2 separate regions of the Homo sapiens genome follow, and region 2 is linked to region 1. Evidence: fine-mapped expression QTL. A gene starts in region 1. The other region holds a variant in brackets. All regions are shown on one strand. Distances are between the middles of the regions. Region 1 holds the start of TYK2 (tyrosine kinase 2). Region 2 overlaps TYK2 (tyrosine kinase 2).

Region 1 (11,666 bases):
TCCCAAAGTGCTGGGATTACAGGCATGAGCCACCGCGCCCGGCCTGACTTTCTTTTTTTAATGACACTGGGTCTCACTCTGTCACCCAGGCTGGAGTGCAGTGACGAAACCATACCTCATTGCAGGCTTGAACTCCTGGGCTCAAGCGATCCTCTTGCCTCAGGCTCTCAAGTTGCTGGGACTACAGGCATGTACCACCATGCCTGGCTAATTTCTAAAAATTATTTTGTTGAGACAAGGTCTCCCTATGTTGCCCAGGCTGGTCTCCAACTACTGGCCTCAAGCAATCCTCCTGCCTGGGCCTCCTCAAGTACTGGGATTACAAGTGTCAGCTACTGCACCTGGCCAAGTTTTCTGATTTATTATATTTCTTGCTGTCCTCCCTACTAAAATTTCAGCTCTACAAAGGCAGTGATTTGCAGCTGCCACACAGTAGATGCTTACAAAATGTTCACCGAATGAACGGGTGGATGGATGGATGGATGGATGGATGGATGGATGGATGGATGGATGGATAGATGGATGAATAGGTGGGTGGGTGGGTGGATGGATGGATGGATGGATGGATGGATGGATGGATGGATAGATGGATGAATGGGTGGGAGGATGGATGGGTGGGTGGATGGATGGATGCATGGATAGGTGGGTGAGTGGGTGAGTGGGTGGGTGGATGGATGGATGGATGGATGGGTGGGTGGGTGGATGGATGGGTGGGTGGGTGGATGGATGGATGGATGAATGGATGGATGGGTGGATGGATGGGTGGATGGGTGGGTGGATGGATGGGTGGATGGATGAATGGGTGGGTATGGATGGATCGATGGGTGGATGGATGGATAGATGGATGAATGGGTGGGTGGATGGATGGGTGGATGGGTGGGTGGGTGGATAGGTGGGTGGATGGGTGGGTGAGTAGGTGGATGGATAGGTGGATAGGTGGGTGGATGGATGAGTGGGTGGGTGGATGTATGGATGGATGCGTGGGTGGATGGATGGGTGGGTGGGTGGGTGGATGGATGCGTGGGTGGATGGATGGGTGGGTGGGTGGGTGGATGAATGGGTGGATGGGTGGATGGGTGAAAGGGTGGGTGGATGGGTGAATGGGTGGGTGAATGGGTGGGTGGATGGGTGGATGGGAGGATGGATGGATGCATGGGTGGATGGATGGGTGGGTGGGTGGATGGATGGGTGGTTGGGAGGGTGGATGGGTGGGTGGATGGGTGGATGGATGGATGGATGGATGAGTGGGTGGATGGGTGGGTGGATGGGTGGGTGGGTGGATAGACGGATGGATGGGGCCCAGCTGCTGCTTGCACACCCACCCCAGTCCCCATGGTGCCAACGCCCCAGACTCACCAACTTTATGTGCAATGTGGATGCAGACTTCCTCAGCTGTCAGCGATGACTCACTGAAAGTGACCCAGGGCTCCCCGCCGCCTGGACCAGCCCAGTGCAGAAGCACCTTCAGGCCTCCCATGGCAGCCATGGGCTGGGCTCCATCCCCAACGGGCTTACTGCCCCTGGCCATCCCCCAGTGGCGCAGAGGCATGCTCCCGGCAGGTGGCTCAGCTGGAAAGGGGACAATCTGTCAGCTCCCAAGTCTCAGCCCAGAGACCCCTGTTAGCTCTTCAACCTTCCACCCACCCCAGCTAAGGCCTGAGGGGAAGATTCTGGGCTCCCATCTTGGCATGACATTAGAGACCCGATTCCCTCTCTGAGTCTCGTTTTCCACATTTATTGGACAGGGTTGGGGTATGCATCCCCACCTAGATCTCTCATCAACAATAACACTGAACCCTCCTCTCTTTCCACAAATTGACACAGATATAAAAATCTGCTCTGGCCAGGTACAGTGGCTCACGCCTCTAATCCCAGGACTTTGGGATGTTGAGGCAAGAGGATTGCTTGAGCCCAGGAGCTCGAGACCAGCCTAGGCCATATAGCAAGACCCTGTTTCTACAAGACGTTTTATTTTATATCTTATCTTATCTTATCTTATCTTATCTTATCTTATCTTATCTTATTTTTGAGACAGAGTTTCACTCTTGTTGCCCAGGCTGGAGTGCAATGGTACAATCTTGCTCACCACAACCTCTGCCTCCTGGGTTTAAGTGATTCTCCTGCCTCAGCCTCCTGAGTAGCTGGCGCCTGCCACCACACCGGGCTAATTTTTGTATTTTTAGTAGAGACAGGGTTTTGCCATGTTGGCCAGGCTGGTCTTGAACCTCTGACCTCAGGTGATCCACCCGCCTCGGCCTCCCAAAGTGCTGGGATTACAGGCGTGAGCCACTGTGCCCGGCCTCTACAAGAAATTTTTAAAATTTAGCCAGGCGTGGGGGTGCACATCTGTACTCCAAGCTACTCGGGAGGCTGAAGTGGGAGGATCTCCTGAGCCCAGGAGTTGGAGGCTGCAGTGAGCAGTGATCGCACCACTGCATTCCAGCCTGGGTGACAGAGTGAGACCCTGACTCTAAAAATATAAATAAATAAATAAATAAATAAGTAATAAAAATATATAAAAAGGGCCAGGCGCGGTGGCTCATGACTGTAATCCCAGCACTTTGGGAGGCCAAGGCGGACAGATCACGAGGTCTGGAGATTGAGACCATCTTGACCAACATGGTGAAACCCCATCTCTACTAAAATACAATAAATAAATAAATAAATAAATAAATAAATAAATAAAAAGTAAAATAAAAATCTGCTCTTAACACACCTCCCCAAAATAACCAGACAGGCAGATGTGGTCAAACATACCTGAGGGTGAGTCCTGGAGCTCCCTGTGTCAACTCAAGCAAGCCACTTAGCAATTCTGGGCCTCAGTTTCCCCATCTGGAAAAGGGAGGTCCTCAGGGTGTTGCCATCAAAAGATGGTTGTAATGTTTCAATATAGTTCCGCATATTACACATTCAGCACAGACCCTGATTCAGGCACACACAAAAAGAACAAATATGACCAAAACAAGAATAACATAATTGTTATTAGTTTCATCGTGGTGATGGCCTCTTTCAGGCCACAATTCTCCTCTCCCACATTTACCCCCATGAGTGACCTCAGTCCCTGTTGACTCCCCAAAGCCTAGGAGAGTTTATGTCCAGCTCCATCCCCCCAATCCAGGGCCTGAGCCTCCTGAGGGCGCCAGTATGGAAGTGGAGGGGCTGTCACTTCCACCCATGTTGCTGGTTTCCTCATCTGGAAAATGGGCATGTAACAGTGTCTACCTCAAAAGGCTGCTGGGAGGATTTAACGCGAGGAGGCAGAGAAAGTGCCTGGTATACAGTAAGCGCTTAATTAGCCTTTGCCATTAATACCTATTCATGTTATAGATGAGATCCCGGGGATGGGGCTTTCGCGGAGCCTACTTCCTCCTTCCTCCTTTCTCGTCCCCACTGGACCCAGACCCAGCTTTGAAGACAGGGTCGGAGTGAAGTTTGCAACTGGGAAGGCTGCACGCCCCCATGTCCTCCCCCCAAAACCTCTAAACCCGGCCGGCAACGGCGGGAACTGGGATGTGCACCCACCGGGCATCGGAGCAGTCCCGAGGCACCAGGTGCTCCCATCCAAGTGCAGCCTGTCAAGCGCAGCCAGTCCCCGCGGCTTCTTCCTGAGGACCTCCGGCCGCGCTCCTTCCGCGCCCGCGTCCAGACTCACCCTTCCGGGGGAACACAAGCTCGAACCCGGACCCCTCCCCGCTCCCGCGGGTAGCTACTGCTTGTCCCCCGCCGAGACGCCTCCTCCCATTGGCCGCCTGAAACGCACACGCCCATTGGCAGCTGCTCTGTTCTCCCTGCTCGTCACCATTGGATTTTTTTTTTTTTGCCATGGTGGCGGCACTCTCATTGGTCCTGGGGCTCATTCGTCACTCAGCCGCGATTGGCTGAGTCGGCACCCAGATGCGCTGTCGCTTCTGCTATTGGCTGGCACTCGGTGGACGGAGACGGGGGAGGGGCTTGCGAGAGGCGGGAGGGAGAGCGAAGTGTGTGGGCAACGCGGCCGGATCCTGGAGTTCCCCTCCGTGCTGTGGAATTGGGTCAGGCGTGTACGGTCCTGACCCTAGGACACAGCTGCATGTCCTCACCTCGGTGTTCAAAGCTGCACCGGCCACCATTCAACCCTCCGACGCCCTGCCCTTTGGCTTCCCCGTTCCATCCGGTCCTGTCTCCTTTCCCTCGTTTCTACCTGGCCGACTCCATCCTGCTGACTAGAATTCCCCCTCCTTCACTCCTGGGAGGCATTCCTCGCCCACCTGCCCCAGTCCTCTTCCTGATCACCTGCAGCCCTGTCCTCTGAAGCTCCCTAGCGGTCAGGGTAGCAGCTTGGACATCCCGCCAGACGTGAATTCAAATCCCCACTCCGCAAGTCGTGCCCATTTGCTGAGAAGCCTACAGCCAGAGCGTTTCACATACATTATCTCATTTGATCCTAGCAGCAATTCCCTGTATGGCGGCTCTTATTATCCCCATTTCACAGAGGAAGAAACTCAGGCATGAAGAGGTAACAAAGACCGTCCTCTGACCCTTCTTCTGTGCCACACCATAACCACTCCTCGACTTTGTCTTTCACCTGCCCAGCCAAGTCTTAGCAAAGAAGCCTATTAAGTCATCCGCTCATCCTTGATGTCTGATCAACTTCCTCATCTTCCACTTTTTTTTTTTTTTTTTTTTAAGATGGAGTTTCGCTCTTGTCGCCCAGGCTGGAGTGCAATGCTGCGATCTCGGCTCACTGCAACCTCAGACTCCCGGATTCAAGCGATTCTCCTGCCTCAGCCTCCTGGGTAGCTGGGACAACAGGCGCCCGCCACCACGCCCGGCTAATTTTTGTATTTTTAGTAGAGATGGGATTTCACCATCTTGGCCAGGCTGGTCTCGAACTCCTGACCTCGTGATCCACCCTCCCAAAGCGCTGGGATTACAGGCGTGAGCCACCGCACCCGGCCCTTTTGTTGTTAATTTTTAAATTTTGTGGCTAATTTTTAAATTTTTGTAGAGATGGGGTCTGGCTATGTTGCCCAGGCTGGTCTTGAACTTCTGGCCTCAAGCAATCATCCTGCCTTGGCTTTCCAAAGTGCTGGGATTACAGATGTGAGCTAAGACACCCAGCTCCATGGAGTTGGTCTTAACTGCCATGGCCAAGGGACATGTGGCTGCTTCTCTCTGAGTCAGAAAATATGGGTAAAAAGCCTCCTCACAGGGCAGCTGTGGACATTCAGTATGAAAATGCTGAAAGAGATCGGGAATGGTCTCTTTCACACCTGTAATCCCAGCACTTTGGGAGGTGGAGGCGGGCGGATCACCTGAGGTCAGGAGTTCAAGACCAGACTGGCCAACATGGTGAAACCCTGTCTCTACTAAAAATGCAAAAATTAGCTGGGCATGGTGGTGGGCACCTGTAATCCCAGCTATTCAGGAGGCTGAGGCAGGAGAATCGCTTGAACTTGGGAGGCAGAAGTTGCAGTGAGCCGAGATCACACCATTGCCCTTCAGCCTGGGCAACAAGAGCTAAACTCTGTCTCAAAAAAAAAAAAAGAAAAAGAAAAAGAAAGAAAATGCTGATAGAGGCCGGGCACAGTGGCTCACGCCTGTAATCCCAGCACTTTGGGAGGCCGAGGTGGGCGGATCATGAGGTCAGGAAATCGAGACCATCCTGGCTAAGGCGGTGAAACCCCGTCTCTACTAAAAATACAAACAATTAGCTGGGCGTAGTGGCAGCCTGAGGCAGGAGAATGGCGTGAACCGGGGAGGCGGAGCTTGCAGTGAGCCGAGATTGCGCCACTGCACTCCAGCCTGGGCGCCAGAGTGAGACTCTGTCTCAAAAATAAAATAAAATAAAATAAAATAAAATGCTGATAGAGACTTGTCCTGGCTGGATGCAGTGGCTCATCCCTATAAACCTAGCACTTCAGGGAGCTAAAGAAGGAGTACTGTCTGGGCCCAGTTCAAGACCAACCTGGGCAATATAGCAAGACCCCATCTCTACCCAAAATAAAAAAAATTAGTCTAAGGCTGAAGTATGAGAATCGCTTGAGCCCAGGAGGTGGAGGTTGCAGTGGGCTGAGATCCCACCACTGCACTCCAGCTTGGGCTACAGAGTGAGACTCCATCTCGGGGGGAAAAAAAATTAGTTAGTCCCAGCTACTCCGAAGGCTGAGGTGGGAGGATTGCTTGAGCCCAGGAGGTTGAGGCTACAGTGAGCCGTGATCACACCACTGCACTCCAGCCTGGGCAACTTGACCTCCTGGGCTCTGCTGTATTTTCTTCAGAGTCCTTATTGCAACCTGACATTTCATGGGAAGTTTCTTTCTTTTTTTTTTTTTTTAAAGAGACAGAGTCTTGCTCTGTTGCCCAGGCTGGAGTGCAGTGGCGCAATCTTGGCTCACTGCAACCTCTGCCTCTCAGGTTCAAGCAATTCTCCTGCGTCAGCATCCCCGGTAGCTGGGATTACAGGCGTGCACCACCACGCCTGGCTAATTTTTGTATTTTTAATAGAGACAGGGTTTGGCCAGGTTGGCCATACTGGTCTCGAGCTCCTGACCTCAGGTGATCCACCCGCCTTGGCCTCCCAAAGTGCTGGGATTACAGATGTGAGCCACCGCGCCCAGCTGGGTTTCTCTTCTTTCTTTCTTTCTTTTTTTTTTTTTTTTTTTTTTTTTTGAGACAAGAATCTCGCTCTGTTGCCCAGGCTGGAGTGCAGTGCTGTGATCTCAATTCACTGCAGTCTCAACTTCCCAGATTCACCATTCACAATCTTCCACCTCAGCCTCCTGAGTAGCTGGGACTACAGATGTGCATCACGATGCCTGGGTAACTTTTTTTTTTTTGAGGCGGAGTCTTGCTCTGTTGCTAGGCTGAAGTGCAGTGGCACGATCTCGGCTCACTGTAATCCCTGCCTCCCAGGTTCTAGCGATTCTTCTGCCTCAGCCTCCAGAGAAGCTGGGATTACAGGCGTGTGCCACCACACCCAGCTAATTTTTTTGTATTTTTTAGTAGAGATGGGGTTTCACCATGTTGGCCAGGATGGCCTCAATCTCCTGACCTCATGATCCTCACGCCTCGGCCTCCCAAAGTGCTGGGATTACAGAAGTGAGCCACCGCGCCCAGCCGCCTGGCTAACTTTTGTGTGTGTGTATTTTTTATAGAAATGGGCTTCCACCAACCCCGTCTCTACTAAAAATACAAAAATTAGCCGGGTGTGTTGGTGGGTGCCTATAATCCCAGCTACTTGGGAAGCTGAGGCAGGTGAATCACTTGAACCTGGGAGGCGGAGTTTGCAGTGAGCTGAGATCGCGCCACTGCACTCTAGCCTGGGCGACAGAGTGAGACTCTATCTCAAAAAAAAAAAAAGGAAAAGAAATGGGTTTTCACCATGTTGCCCAGGCTGGTCTCAAACTACTGGGCTCAAGTGGTCCTCCCGCCTTGACCTCCCAAACTGCTGGGATTACAGGCGCATGCCACCACACCCGGCTAATTTTTTAGTATTTTTTAGTAGGGACGAGGTTTCACCATGTGGGCCAGGATGGCCTTGATCTCCTGACCTCGTGATCCTCCCGCCTTGGCCTCCCAAAGTGCTGGGAATACCGGTGTGAGCCACCTCGCCTGGCCGGCTGGCTAACTTTTGTGTGTGTGTAATTTTTTTAGAAATGGGTTTTCACTATGTTGCCCAGGCTGGTCTCAAACTACTGGGCTCAAACTGCTGGGCTCAAGTGGACCTCTGGCCTTGACCTCCCAAACTGCTGGGATTACAGGCATGAGCCACCGTGCCCAGCCCCTGGGAAGTTTCTTTGAGCACAAGTTCTATTGCCTGTCTGCGGTTCTAGGACCGCACCAGAAAGAGGTCCGTCTGGTTGTCTGCTAAGCCCTCAGTGCCTGAGATTGTGCATCCAGCCCAGTAGGTGGCTTAAGAAGCCACAGCTGGAGGGGAATGAATGGCCTGGGAGCCAGGAATCCCTGGCTGTTGTCCTGCCTGCTGCGGGAGGGCTGGCTGTGAGCTTCCTCTCTGTCGCCGCTTAGAGTACAGTACCTAGAAGCCAAGAGTGCCAGATTTTTCTTTTTCCTTTTTTCTTTTATTGAGAGAGGGAGTTTCGCTCTTGTTGCCCAGGCTGGAGTGCAATGGCACAATCTCGGCTCACCACAACCTCTGCCTCCTGGGTTAAAGCGATTCTCCTGCCTCAGCCTCCCAAGTAGCTGGGATTACAGGCATGCGCCACCACGCCCGGCTACTTTTTTGTATTTTTAGTAGAGATGGGGTTTCTCCATGTTGGTCAGGCTGGTCTTGAACTGCCGACCTCAGGTGATCCACCCACCTCGGCCTCCCAAAGTGCTGGGTAATACTGGTGTGAGACACCGTGCCCGGCCTAGAGAGTGCCAGATTTTTCAACAGCCATTGGGGCAATGCTCCGTGATTAGATGCTAGAACACAGTGGGCCGAGTGGGCCTGGGACCCGGTATTCCCCGCTCCCAAAGGAACTAGAAGGAAATGCCACATGAGGCGATTAATAATAACAATGCTAGTCATACTCCCAGTAACGATATCAATTCTAACAATGAGCTGGTGCGGTGGCTGGCACCTGTAATCCCAGCACTTTGAGAGACAGAGGCAGGAGGATCGCTTGAACCCAGGAGTCCCAGACCAGCCTGGGCAACATAGTGAAACCTCGTGTCTACAAAAAAAATTTAAAAATTAGCTGGGCATGGTGATACACGCCTGTAGTCCCAGCTACTAGGGAGGCTGGGGTGGGAGGATCGCTTGAGTCCACAGGTTGAGGTTGCAGTGAGCTGTGATCGCACCACTGCACTCCAGCCTGGGCAACCGAGCAAGACCCTATCAAATAAATAAATAAATAAATAAATAAATAAATAAATAAATAAAGCTGACATTTTCCCAGCCTGCACACTGGGGCCGAGCGTGGGTATTTAGCCATCTCTGGGTCTTCTCAGTTTCTTTCTTTTTTTTTTTTTTTTGAGATGGAGTCTCACTCTGTTGCCCAGGCTGGAGTGCAGCGGCGTGATCTCGGCTCATTGCAAGCTCCACCTCCCAGGTTCATGCCATTCTCCTGCTTCAGCCTCCCGAGTAGCTGGGACTACAGGTGCCCGCCACCACACCCGGCTAATTTTTTGTATTTTTAGTAGAGACGGGGTTTCACCAGGGTTAGCCAGGATGGTCTCGATCTCCTGACCTCGTGATCCGCCCGCCTCGGCCTCCCACAGTGCTGGGATTCCAGGCACCAGCCACTGCACCTGGCCTCTTCTCAGTTTCTTTGCAAGTGGTATCAGCACCCCCACTTGACAATTGAAGAAAAGAGGCTAAGGAGGCTGTTTTGCCAAGGCCTGGCGCCTCCTGCCCAAACTCAGACCTGGTCCATAAGGGAGGCCCCAGACCCCACATGTGACTAACAGGAGGGGGTTTCCCAGGACTGAGGGGGTTCCCCAATGGGGGGCTTTCCATGCTAAAATTGGGACAGTCCTGGGCAGGCCAGGACAGTTGGCCACGCCACTACGGCGGGTTTCTCAGAAGGAACAAAAGCTGGGGGCTTCCCCTGGCTCTGCAAGGGCTGCAGGGAGGGGCCTCCTCAGAGCCCCCTGGGACCTGGGAAAAGCCAAGAGTTGATGGATTAAAAGTAAAATACCTTTGTGTTTTCATGAGTGAGAAAGTTCAGGGAACAGCCAGTCTCCTCCTCAAAACAACCATGAGATGGATTTCCTGGGAAATCTTTTTTTTTTGAGACAGAGTTTTTCCTCTTGTCGCCCAGGCTGGAGTACAATGGCACGATCTTGGCTCACTGCAACCTCTGCCTCCTGGGTTCAAGGGATTCTCCTGCCTCAGCCTCCCGAGTAGCTGGGATTAGAGGCGCCTGCCACCACGCCCAGCTAATTTTTGTATTTTTTGTAGACACGGGGTTTCACCATCTTGGCCAGGCTGGTCTCGAACTCCTGACCTCAGGTGATCCACCCGCCTTGGCCTCCCAAAGTGCTGGGATTACAGGCATGAGGCTACCGCACTCAGCCTCCTGGGAATCTTTCCACAAAAATTCTACGCTCCTTTGGGCACGTGTGTGAACCTGTGTTCTCTAGAAAATTCTCAGGAGCAGCCCCAAATGGGACACTCGGTGCTGGCCTGAGAGGATACAGAGGAGTAACTTACACACATGAAGGCTGGCACCAGACGGGCTGAGTTCAAGCCCCAGCTCCATCACTGTGTGATCCTGGGCGGCCCCTTAACCCCACTGTGCCTCAGTTTCCTCCTCTGCAAGATGTGACTATTTAGTCCCAAACCCAGAGGCATGTCAGGGACATCAAATGAGTTAATACACTTCATTAGCCAGGTGTGGTGGTGCATGCCTGTACAGGAGGCTGAGGCAGGAGAATCGCTTGAACCTGGGAGATGGAGGTTGCAGTGAGCCGAGATCGTGCCACTGCATTTAAGCTTGGGCAACAGAGCAAGACTCGGTCTCAAAAAAAAAATAAATAAAAGGACTGGTGGTGGATAGCCAGATGCAGTGTGTGTCTCTTGGCTGTAATTTGAGCTACTCAGGAGGTTGAGGCAGGAGAATCACTTGAGCCCAGAGGTTAGAGGCTGCAGTGAGCTATGATTGTGCCACTGCACTCCAGCCTGGGTGACAGAGCCAGATCCCATCTCTTAAAAAAAAAAAAGGGGGGGGCCACACATGGTGGCTCATGTGTGTAATCCCAGCACTTCGGAAGGCCAAGGCGGGCAGTCCTCTTGAGGTCAGGAGTTTGAGACCAACCTGGCCAACATAGTGAAACCCTGTGTCTACAAAAAATACAAAAATTAGGCCGGGTGCGGTAGCTCACGCCTGTAATCCCAGTACTTTGGGAGGCTGAGGCAGGTGGATCATGAGGTCAGGAAATCAAACCCATCCTGGCTAACACAGCGAAACCCCGTCTCTACTAAAAATACATAAAAATTAGCCGGGCGTGGTGCCAGACGCCTGTAGTCCCAGCTACTCAGGAGGCTGAGGCAGGAGAATGGCGTGAGCTCGGGAGGCAGAGCTTGCAGTGAGCTGAGATCAGGCCACTGCACTCCAGCCTGGGCGACAGAGCAAGACTCCATCTCACAAAAAAAAAAAAAAAAAAAAAAAAAAAGGGCCGGGCACAGTGGCTCACACCTGTAATCCCAGCACTTTGGGAGGCCGAGGAGGGCAGATCACGAGATCAGGAGATCGAGACCACGGTGAAACCCCGTGTCTACTAAAAATACAAAAAATTAGCCGGGTGTGGTGGCGGGCGCCTGTAGTCCCAGCTACTCGGGAGGCTGAGGCAGGAGAATGGCGTGAACCCCGGAGGTGGAGCTTGCAGTGAGCCGAGATCATGCCACTGCACTCCAGCCTGGGCGACAGAGTGAGACTCTGTCTCAAAAAAAAAAAAAAAAAAAAGCCAGGTGTGGTGGAGTGCGCCTGTAATCCCAGCTACTTGGGAGGCTGAGGAGGGAGAATCCCTTGAAACTGGGAGGCAGAGGTTGCAGTGAGCCCGAGATCATGCGACTGCACTCCAGCCTGGGCGACAGAGTGAGACTCAGTCTCACAAAATACAAACAAAATCTTCAATAACAAGGAATGCAGTATTTTGAAAAACTGAAATTAACACCAAAATGTGTATGATGAACAAAAATTATTATTATTATTATTATTTTTGAGACGGAGTCTCACTCT
Region 2 (11,666 bases), 30 kb before region 1:
GAGGCTGAGGTAGAGGGATCATTTAAGCCCGGGACTTCATCAACCTGGGTAACATGGAGAAACTTCGCCTCTACAAAAAATACAGAAATTAGCTTAAGCGTGGGAGGCGGAGGTTGTAGTGAGCAGAGATTGCGCCACTGCACTCCAGCCTGGATGACAGAGCAAGACTCTGTTTCAAAACTATGGGGACAGTAAATAACAGATCAGCAGTTGCCAGGGGTTAGTGAGAAGAGAGGGATGAACAGGCAGCGCATGAATGACGTTTAGCGCAGTGAAACTACTCCATGTGATACTATATTGGTGGGTTCATGCCTTATACGTTTGTCCAGCCCCACAGAACGTACAACAGCAAGAGTGAACCCTCATGTAAAGTACAGACCTCAGGAGAAAATGATATGTCAGTGGAGGTTCATAGATTTTTTTTTTCAGACAGAGTCTTGCTCTGCCGCTCAGGCTGGAGTGCAGTGGCATGATCTTGGCTCACTGCAACCTCCACCACCACCTCCTGGGTTCAAGCAATTCTCTTGCCTCAGCCTCCTAAGTAGCTGGGAGTACAGGTGCCTGCCACCATGCCTGGCTAGTTTTTGTATTTTTAGTAGAGATGGGGTTTCACCATGTTGCCCAGGCTGGTCTCGAACTCCTGACCTCCCAAAGTGCTGGAATTACAGGCATGAGTCACCGAGGTTCATAGATTCTAACACATGTATCACTGTGGTACAGGATAGGTCAGCAAGGGAGGTTGTGCAGGGGGATGGGAGGGAGGGGATATAGGAGAACTCTGTATTTTCCACTCAACTTTGCTGTAAACCTAAAACTGCTCTAAACAAATTGAGTGGTTATCCTACTACTCAAGAGGCTAAGGTGGGAGGATCACTTGAGCCCAGGAGTTTGAGACCAGGCTGGGCAGCAGAGTAAGACGCTGTGTCTACAAAAAATTTTAAAATTAGCCAGATGGCCAGGCATGGTGGCTCACACCTGTAATCCCAGCACTTTCGGAGGCTGAGGTGGGTGGATCACCTGAGGTCAGGAGTTCGAGACCAGCCTGGCCAACATGGTGAAATCCTGTCTCAACTAAAAATACAAAAATCAGCCAGGCGTGGTGGCGGGCGCCTGTAATCCCAGCTACTGGGGAGGCTGAAGCAGGAGAATCGCTTGAACCCTGGAGGTGGAGGTCGCACTGAGCCTAGACCGTACCATTGCACTCCAGCCTGGGTGACATAGTGAGACTCCCTCTCAAAAAAAAAAAAAAAAAAAAAAAAAAATTAGCCAGGTGACGTGGCAGGAGCCTATAGTCCCAGCTCCTACAGAGGCTGAGGTGGGAGGATCACTTGCGCCTGGGAGGTCAAGGTTGCCATGGGCTATAATAGCACCACTGTACTCCAGTGTGGGTGACAGAGCGAGACCCAGTCCCCAGCCCCACAAAAGAAGTCCTTCTGGGGATATTTAACTGCCTTTCACAAATGTGTCTGACCCACCATCTCAAGTCACACAGGCTAAGTAGAAACGCTTTGCCAAACACCAGAATAACAATAATACCTTTTTCTTTTCTTTTTTCAGACAGTCTTGCTCTATCGCCCAGGCTGGAGTGCAGTGGTGCGATCTCAGCTCAATGCACTCTGCCTTCCAGTTCAAGCAATTCTCCTGCCTCAGCCTCTAGAGTAGCTGAGATTACAGGTGTGTGCCACCACACCTGGCTAATTTTTGTATTTTTTTCCTCAACAAGAACAAACTTGGTAAATAACGATGATTGTTCATGGTTTCAGACTCCTTTTTTTTTTTTTTTTTTTTAAGTTCCAGGGTACATGTGCACAATGTGGTTTGTTACATAGGTATACATGTGCCATGTTGGTTTGCTGCACCCATTAACTCATCATCTACATTAGGTATTTCTCCTAATGCTATCCCTCCCGCAGGCCCCTACCCCACAACAGACCCCGGTGTGGGTGTGTGTTGTTCCCTGCCATGTGTCCAAGTGTTCTCATTGTTCAGTTCCCACCTATGAATGAGAACATGCGGTGTTTGGTTTTCTGTCCTTGTGATAGTTTGCTGAGAATGATGGTTTCCAGCTTCATTCGTGTCCCTGCAAAAGATATGAACTCATCCTATTTTATAGCTGCATAGTATTCCATGGTGTATATGTGCCACATTTTCTTAATCCAGTCTATCATTGATGGACATTTGGGTTGGTTCCAAGTCTTTGCTATTGTGAATAGTGCCGCAATAAACATACGTGTGCATGTGTCTTTTTTTATTTTTTTTTGAGACAGAGTTTTGCTCTTGTCACCCAGGCTGGAGTGCAATGGCTTGATCTTGGCTCATGGCAACCTCTGCCTCCTGGGTTCAAGTGATTCTCCTGCCTCAGCCTCCCAAGTAGCTGGGATTACAGACGCCTACCACAATGCCCAGCTAATTTTTGTATTTTTAGTAGACAAGGGTTTTGCCATGTTGGGCAGGCTGGTCTCAAACTCCTGACCTCAACTGATCCGCCCGCCTTGGCCTTTCAAAGTGCTGTGCTGGGATTACAGGCGTGAGCCACTCTATCCAGCCAACTTCATTTTTAAAATTTTTATTTTAAAATAATATAGGCTAGGTGTAGTGGCTCACGCCTGTAATCCCAACACTTTGGGAGGCCGAGGCGGGCAGATCACCTGAGGTCAGGAGTTTGAGAGCAGCCTGACCAACAAGATGTAACCCCGTCTCTACTAAAAATACAAAATTAGCCGAGTGTGGTGGCGTGCGCCTGTAATCCCAGCTACTCCGGAGGCTGAGGCAGGATAATCGCTTGAACTCAGGAGGGGGAGGTTGCAGTGAGCCGAGATAGCACCATTGCACTCCAGCCTGGAGAACAGTGAAACTGCCTCAAAAATAAATAAACAAATAAATAAATAAATAAAAATACGGACAGGATCTCCCTATGTTGCCCAGGCTGGTCTCGAACTCCTGGACTCAAGGGATCCTCCTGCCTCAGCCTCCCAAAGTGCTGGGGTTACAAGCAATGAGCCACTGCATCCAGTCAACAATAATATTGTATATTTATTTATTTAATTATTATTTTTTTGAGACAGAGTCTTTCTCTGTCACCCAGGCTGGAGTGCAGTGGTGCAATCTCGGCTCACTGCAATCTCCGCCTCCTGGGTTCATGACATTCTCCTGCCTCAGCCTCCCGAGTAGCTGGGACTACAGGCACCCGCCACCACGCCCGGCTAATTTTTTTGTATTTTTAGTAGACGGGGTTTCACCGTGTTAGCCAGGATGGTCTCAATCTCCTGACCTTGTGATCCTCGTGGCCTCCCAAAGTGCTGGGATTACAGGCGTGAGCTGCCGTGCCCGGCCAATATTGTATATTTATTAAGCACTTGTTTGCATGTCTTTCTGCTCAGCATTTCACAGACACCACCTCATGAGCTCTTTACATGAGTCCTATGAGATAGCAAGTGTGAAGCTCCCATAATGGAGGACTAAGGCCCAGAGAGGTGAAGCCATTAGCCTGAGGTCACACAAATGTGAAAGGGTGAAACTGGCAGTCTAATCTATGTGGCTTGTGACCGCCCCGACCAAATACTTTGTGTATTCAACAAGTAGTTATTGGCCAGGCGCAATGGCTCACACCTGTAATCCCAGCACTTTGGGAGGCGGAGGCAGGTGGATCACCTGAGGTCAGGAGTTCAAGACCAGCCTGGCCAATAAGGTGAAACCTCAACTCTACTAAAAATACAAAAAATTAGCCAGGCATGGAGGCGGTCACCTGTAGTCCCAGCTACTCGGGAGGCTGAGGCAGGAGAATGGTGTGAACCCAGGAGGCGGAGCTTGCAGTGAGCCTAGATCACGCCACTGCACTCCAGCCTGGGCGACAGAGCAAGACTCTGTCTCAAAAAGAAAAAAAAAAAAAAGTTAAACAGTTGAATCCAGCCACCTCTGCGCTGTCTCATGCTAGCTGCTGTCCACAGGAGACCAGACTCCCAGCTAACCCAGCTTTCTTGAAGAGGGCTCCAAAAATCACAGGCTCCAGCAGAGAAAACATGAGTTTATTACCAGATGGTGGAGATGGTGGGCCTCAAGTTTGGAAGCTGGGGGATTTAAGGGCTGGATTAGTGCCCCTACAAATGTTGGGTCCCTCAAGATCATGGTTAGGCTCACGGCCAAGAAAGAAAAATAAGTTCACAGAGGTGGGGTCTCTAGACAGGAGTAAGGCACACGGTGTGGGTGAGGCTGACATCCCCCTCTTGGTTTCATCCTGGAGCAGGGAGCAGGAGGCTCCCTCTGCAGCCACTGCCTGGTCCAGTCCTCCCAGGCAGGGCTGCCATTGTGCCTCAGCACACGCTGAACACTGAAGGGGCCTGGCCTTGGTACTTCTCATGGACTGTCTTCAGAATGGGTATGAGGTTCTCGAAGGTTGGGCGAAAGGACGCCTCTGTCTCCCAGCAGTTCTTCATGAGATGATAGACCTAGAAGGAAAAACCAGGGCTGGTGGGGGCTGCCCTCTCCACAGCAGGATAGTGGGGTCAGGGAAAGACAAAGGAAGTCTCACCTCACAGGGACATTTGTCGGGCCGTGGCAGCCTCTCCCCTCGTTCCAGCAACTCAGTGAGTCTCAGAACTGTCATCTGACCCTGAGCAATGCCTATGAGCTCAAGGAATTTCTACAGTATAAACAAGACAAGCTCTTTTCAAGAGGCAATGAAAGGCAGGCACGGTGGCTCATGCCTGTAATCCCAGCACTTTGGAAGGCTGAGGTGGGTGGATCACCTGAGGTCAGGAGTTCGAGACCAGCCTGGCCAACATGGTGAAACCCCATCTCTACTAAAAATACAAAAATTAGCTGGGCATAATGGCAGGCGCCCGTAATCCCAGCTACTTGGGAGGCTGAGGCAGGAGGATCGTCTGAACCTGGGAGGCGGAGGTTGCAGTGAGCCGAGATTGTGCCATTGCACTCCAGCCTGGGATACAAGTGTGAAACTCCATCTCAAAAAAGAAAAAGAAATCACTCTGCAACTTCATGAAATCGACTGCATGGGTTCCAATCCCACCTCTTACACTTCTCAGCTGTGTGACTTTGAATTTGAGTTCACTTCTCTGGGCCTGTTTTCTCATCCGTAAAATAGGGTAATAACATCTGCCACCTGGGATTACTGTGAACGTTAAACTAATATTCATAGAGTAAGCGTGAGTCAGGTGTTTGCCGTTATTATTAAGCCTCACAGCAGATTGTTCTTACCGTCCAGAATTTTTTTTTTGAGACAGTCTCTCGCTCTTTCACCCAGGCTGGAGTGCAGTGGCATGATCTCGGCTCACTGCAACCTTCGCCTACCGGGTTCAAGCAATTCTCCCTGCCTCAGCCGCCTGAGTAGCTGGGATTACAGGCACCTGCCACCACGCCCGGCTAATTTTTGTATTTTTAGTAGAGACGGGGTTTCACCATGTTGGCCAGGCTGGTCTCGATCTCCTGACCTCGTGATCTGCCCGCCTCGGCCTCCCAAAGTGCTGCGATTACAGGTGTCAGCCACCGCGCCCGGCCTATGCCTTTCTTTCCTTTCTTTTCTTTCTCTCTCTCTCCGTCCTGTCCTGTCTTAGACGGAGTCTCGCTCTGTCACCCAGCTGGAGTGCAGTCGGGAGATCTCGGCTCACTGCAAGCTCCGCCTCCCGGGTTCATGCCATTCTCCTGCCTCAGTCTCCTGAGTAGCTGGGACTACAGGCGCCCGCCACCACGCCTGGCTAATTTTTTTTGTATTTTTAGTAGAGACGGGTTTCACCGTGTTAGCCAGGTTGGTCTCGATCTCCTGACCTCGTGATCCGCCCGCCTCGGCCTCCCAAAGTGCTGGGATTACAGGCTTGAGCCACCGCGCCTGGCCCAGCCTATGCCTTTCTAATTGCTCTAGCAAACTCCCGGTGGGGCTGCGGGCCTGGCTCTCACCGTGGGGGGGCTCTGGCTGGAGTCACAGTGCGTCAGCAGCTCATACAGGGTCACCCCGAAGGACCAGACATCTGACGCATAGTAGAACTTATACTCCTTCAGGCACTCTGGGGCATACCTAGGGGGAGGGGGGCACTCAGGCCACGGGGGGCTGCACTGAGGGCTTGGGGATCAGACCAGGCTGAAGCCCTCACCTGAGACTGAAGGACCCTCTGGGCTCAGTTGGGACCCACCCTTAAGAGCGCAGCCTGAGCGGGGTGATATGCTCATTGGCTAGGCCGCTCATTGGCTAGGCCGGGTTAACCCCGCCCACCAGGCCAAGCCGCACTCTATACACCGCCCCTTGCCTCCATAGGCCCCACCCCCGCACCGCTAGGCCCCGCCGCGCTTCACTGGGATCATGCCCTATCATGATACCCAGCATCCGTCTACTCCACCCTGCCTGTTCCAAGTGACCCCAGCACCCCCTCAGACTGCACCCCGCCTGGTCACCAGAACACGGGGCTGTCCCCATCCTCGCGCACGCGGTAGTACTCGTGGCCTTCGGGCACGGCCTTGGCTAGGCCAAAGTCCCCGATCTTGACCAGCCTGTCGTTGTCCAGCAGCACGTTGCGCGCGGCTAGGTCTCGGTGGATGTAGTGCTGCGCGTGCAGATAGGCCATGCCCTGGGGACGGGGCAGGGCTCGTGAGTTTCAGTGGGGCGGGGTTCGGCCGGGGGCGGCGGCAGGACCTGAGCAGCCAGGAGGGCTGGGGGACAGTCAGGTCAGGCCGGTGGCTACCCGGCCGCTGGAGAGGGCCGGATGGCACGTGGCACCAAGCAAAAGGAGGCTGAGCCAGAAAGCAGGGACGGGGCTAGACGAGCAAAGCTGGGCAGGAGGGCGAGTTGGGAGGGGCCGAGCCGGCTGTGCGTGGTCCCTTGGGAGGAGGGGGTGTGGCCAAGCAAGCCAAACAGTTCGGAGGTCAGTGCAAGGACAAGACAGCCTGGGCAAACGAGCAGGGGCGGAGCGTGAGAGCAGACTGCACCGGATCGCTCAGGCCAGCCCAAGCTGAAGAGGAAGGGGCAAGCTCCAGAAGCAGGGGCGGGGCCGACCAACCTCGCAGATCTGCTGGGCGAAGAGCAGCAGCTGGGCCAGCCCGATGCTGTGCCGGGGCAGGTAGTCTCGGAGGCTGCCCAGGGGCACGTACTCCATGACCAGCTGCAGCGACTTCTCGCCTGCCGCGGAGAGGGGCGGCCCCGGTGGGGGACGATAGAGGGCGGGCCGGGGACC[G/A]CCTACCTTGAGCCCAGCAGAGCCCCTCCAAGGTCGGGAGGGAAGGCCAAGACCCGCGCACACTAGACCCAGTTCTCAGGTGGGATGGACCCATCCAGAACCCCATTCTCACTTGAGGGAGCTGCTGGTGGCTCCCGTCCATCCTGGCCCCAGCAGGTAGCACCCCCCAGATGGGAAGGAGGCAGCCCAGCCACGCTCACCCAGATGCCAAGAACCGCGTACTGCAGCCTGGGGTTGAGAGTCTCTAATTGGCTAGGCCAGACTGGCCCCGCCCACAAGGCCACACCCACGCTCTAACCACGCCCCCTCAAGTCTCTAGGACTCGCCGGGTCCCGCCCACCTTGGTCCTCGCAGCAGCCCTTGTACTTGATGATGTGCTCGTGGTAGAGCGTGCGCAGAATGTCAATCTCCTGCTTCCAGCCCGAGCGGTGCTGGGGGCCGCAGTCTGCCTTGAGGGCTTTCACCGCCACCATCTCGCCAGTGCCGTCGTTGGTCGGATCGTAGCAGTACAAGCTGACCTTGCCGAAGTGACCCTGGTCGGGAGCGCACGAGGGTCAGCTCCACCTCCCCAATCCCTGCACCACTCCCCAACCCCCGATTTCCCGGGCCACTCCTCCAGGCAGATCCTTTCGGAATACCCCAGGCCCCGCCTACTCCGCTCTATTAAGACTCCTTGGCACCTAGGCCTCCCTCAAAGCAGAGGGTCCCACCCACATCTCCTGAGAATCACCTTAGGTAGGAATTTATCCTCAACCCCCAAACTCCTTCCCGACCAGGCGGGCCTTTTAGCAGCTCAGGCCCGTCCCTCACCTCGCCCAGATCTCGGATCTTTTTCAAATAGCGCTTGTGGAAAACCGTAGGGTCCGACGCCGGTGAGTCCGGGTTCACAGTCAAGACGTCAGCAAGATCTGGAAGAGTTGCGGTGGGTAAAGGCCTGACCCCGATCCTTTCCCCAGCAGGCCCACACTTGGGAGTCACAAAGCCAGCCACAGCTACCCCAGGATCCGATTCTAGAGGTAAGAAAACTTTTTCCTGCAACAGCTGAAAGAGTCCACTTATTGTACAAAATGATGCAGAGTTGGCTGCATCAAAACTGACACCTGTTTGGGAGGCCGAGGCGGGAAGATCACTTGAGCCCGGGAGTTCAAGACCAGCCTGGACAACATGGTGAAACCCCCTCTCTACAAAAAAGTTAAAAAAAAAAATTAGCCAGGTGTGGTGGTGCATGCCTGTGGTCCCAGCTACTCAGGAGGCTGAGGTAGGAGGATCGTTTGAGCCCAGGAGTTTTGAGGCTGCAGTGAGTCTGGGCCACAGAGAGACACTGTCTTTAAAAAAAAAAAAAAGAAAGAAAGAAAGAAAAAGAAAAAACAGAAAAACCTGACATCTGGAAGTTCCGAGATTGGGTAGAGGGCACAGATATTTCATAGAGAAAAGAGAAAAACTGGCCAGGCGTGGTGGCTCACACCTGTAATCCCAGCACTTTGGGAGGCCGAGGCAGGAGGATCCCTAGAGCCCAGGAGTCTCAGGCTGCAGTGAGCCATGATCGTGCCTCTGAATAACCACCACACTCCTGCCTGGGCAACACAGCAAGACCTAGTCTTTAAAACAAAAAAGAGAAAGAAAAATGTGATATGACCAGTTGAAAATGGCATATTAGGCCGGGCGTGGTGGCTCACGCCTGTAATCCCAACACTTTGGGAGGCTGAGGAGGGTGGATCACCTGAGGTCAGGAGTTTGAGACCAGCCTAGCCAACACAGTGAAACCCCGTCTCTACTAAAAATACAAAAATTAGCTGGGTGTGGTGGTGGACGCCTGTAATCCCAGCTACTCGGGAGGCTGAGGCAGGAGAATTGCTCGAACCCAGGAGGCGGAGGTTGCAGTGGGCCGAGATCGTGCCATTGCACTCCAGCCTGTGCAACAAGAGCAAAACTCCATCTCAAAAAAAAAAAAAAGAAAGAAAGAAAAAAAAAAAGAAAATAGGTCAGGCGCAGTGGCTCATGCCTGTAATCCCAGCACTTTGGGAGGCCGAGGCGGGTGGATCACGAGGTCAAGAGACTGAGACCATCCTGGCCAACATGGTGAATTCCCGTCTCTACTAAAAATACAAAAATTAGCCCGGCGTGGTGGTGGGCGCCTGTAGTCCCAGCTACCCAGGAGGCTGAGGCAGGACAATTACTTGAACCTGGGAGACGGAGGTTGCAGTGAGCCAAGATTGCACCACTGCACTCCAGCCTGGCAACAGAGTGAGACTCCGTCTCAAAAAAAAGAAAAAAGAGCATATTAATTTTTTAAAGAGAACAATACAAAACTTTTTTAAAAAGAAAAAAAAAACTGCAGTGGTCTAATTCTCTAATCCAAAGAAGTTGTGTCTCTCCCCAGACAAAACATTAAGGAGGCCAGGCGCAGTGGCTCACGCCTGTAATCCCAGCAATTTGGGAGGCTGAAGCAGATAGATCATTTGAGGTCTAGAGTTTGAGACCAGCCTGGCCAACATGGCAAAACCCCACCTCTACTAAAAATACAAAAATTAGCCGGGCATGGTGGCACACGCTTGTAATCCCAGCTACTTGGGAGGCTGAGGTGGGAGGATTGCTTGAACCTGGGAGGTGGAGGTTGCAGTGAGCCAAGATCACGTCACTGCGCTCCAGGCTGGGTGACAGAGCAAGATTCCATTGCAAATAAATAAATAAATACATTAATGAGAGCTCAGGGCAGCCAGGCAGGGCATGCTTATGAATGCCACTGCAAGAAATTGGCACACACCCTGAACCACTGTGCAGAGACCTCTCGTGCGCTATAGGCATACAGCAGGGATCCCAGCCCCGTCCCACTTCCCCAGGGTCCCAGCACTGGGATGGAGCTCACTGTGGGGCTGCAGCCGGGTGAGGTCACGCAGGATGGTGCGGAATGATGGCCTCTGGGTTGGCTCATAGGTCAGACACTGGCTGGTGAGTGTGGCCAGCTGTGGGCAGGAGGGCTCGGGCAGCCGGTGCTGCCTCTGGTAGAAATGCTCCTTCTGTTGGGAAAGGGACCCAGAGGAGTCAACATCCTCCCCTCGCCCCCAACCCGTTCCCCAAGAGGCAGAGTCAAGTCCCCAGAGTGGACCGCCAGGTGCCCGCTCTTATCAGTTCCATTATACAGATGAGGCAACTGAGGCTCCACAAAGTGGGAGGACGTGCTCACAGCCGTAGAACCAGGACTGGGACCCAGGTCCAGTGATTATGCAGAGCTGGAGTGTCACAGTCAGCCTCCTGCCCCAAGCTTCCCTCCTGCCCCTCCTGTAGACCACAGCTCCTTAATACACTGAAGCCTCAGCCTTTGCACAGGCCATGCACTCTGCCTAGGCTGCCCTTCCTAGCCAGGCTTGTTGGCATAATTCTACACTTAGATAAAACCTCTTCTGGGGCCGGGCACTGTGGCTCATGCCTGTAATCCCAGCACTTTGGGAGGCCGAGGTGGGCGGATCACCTGAGGTCAGGAGTTTGAGACCAGCCTGACCAATATAATGAAACCCCATCTCTACAAAAAATACAAAAATTAGCCGGGTGTGGTGGCATGTGCCTGTAATCCCCCCTACTCGGGAGGCTGAGACAGGAGAATCGCTTGAACCCAGGAGGCAGAGGTTGCAGTGAGCTGAGATCACGCCATTGCATTCCAGCCTGGGCAATTAGAGTGGAACTTCGTCTCAAAATAAAACCACCACACTCATGAACCTCCTTTGGGAAGCCTTGTCTGACCCCACTGCTGGGTGAGGCGCATCCTCAGCCCTTCTTCCCCACTCTGCAGCCTGGGCGTCTCCCATCGCTGCCCTGGTCACTCTGCCTAAAACTGAAATCAAGTCTCTTACTTGCCTTCTGTGTGCCAGGCACAAGTGACTTCCACAAGGACCTAAAAAGGCTGGGACTACATTGAGCCCCAGCGAGTGGCCCACCTGCTGGTAGCCCAGAGAGACTTGAAGTCACGAGGCCAGAAGGGATGCAGCTTTGAGCTCTGATTCTGTCCTCTGGATTTCTTGGAGGGGCCCCCACTGCGGGGAGGGCCCAAGGGTCTCCTAGACATACCTCGGAGGGACTGCGGCTCTGCAGAGGGGCCTCTCCGTCAAAGCAGATCTCCAGGAGGGTGGCGCCAAACCCCCACTTGTCCATGGCGGTGCTTAGGCTGTTGGCCCCACCTGGTAGGCATTCGGGGGCCAGCCAGGGGATCCTCTCCACCCGCTCTGGGAGGCCAAGGTCAGAGGTCACCAAGGGTGAAAGGAGCAGGGGAAGCCCCCCACTGTGCCCAGGTCCCCTCAGGTACTCACCCTCCCTGGAGAGGGCGCCCAGGCCCACGCCAGGATCACTCAGCTTGATGAAGGGGCTGGTGCCCTCTGCCAACCCCAGCCGGGCCAGCAGGATGTTCCGGCCACACACATTACCATGAACCAGGTTCTTGTTCTCCTGAGGTGGGCAGGAGAGGGGGTGTGGCCACTCAGGAGAGGCACAGACGCC

What was found.
Region 2: its variant is fine-mapped to the expression of TYK2 in whole blood (TOPMed, PIP above 0.99).

Annotation. Positions count from the first base shown.
Region 1 is chr19:10,376,858-10,388,523 of GRCh38, forward strand. It overlaps TYK2 (tyrosine kinase 2), which reads right to left and starts at 3,715. Exons shown (of 25, transcript NM_003331.5): 1 at 3,523-3,715; 2 at 2,758-2,922; 3 at 1,357-1,569. The coding sequence starts at 1,549. RefSeq lists enhancers at 3,613-3,772, 3,681-4,344, 9,206-9,595, 9,676-9,735.
Region 2 is chr19:10,346,524-10,358,189 of GRCh38, forward strand. TYK2 (tyrosine kinase 2) reads right to left here. Exons shown (of 25, transcript NM_003331.5): 16 at 11,480-11,615; 17 at 11,241-11,395; 18 at 10,045-10,195; 19 at 7,989-8,086; 20 at 7,519-7,711; 21 at 7,005-7,123; 22 at 6,403-6,575; 23 at 5,911-6,028; 24 at 4,529-4,639; 25 at 4,010-4,445. The coding sequence ends at 4,311. Among named protein-coding and RNA genes, the nearest start is that of ICAM3, 13 kb to the left of the region's middle. RefSeq lists an enhancer at 6,724-7,487 and a silencer at 7,389-7,438. The variant G/A (reference allele first, on the strand shown) is at 7,179.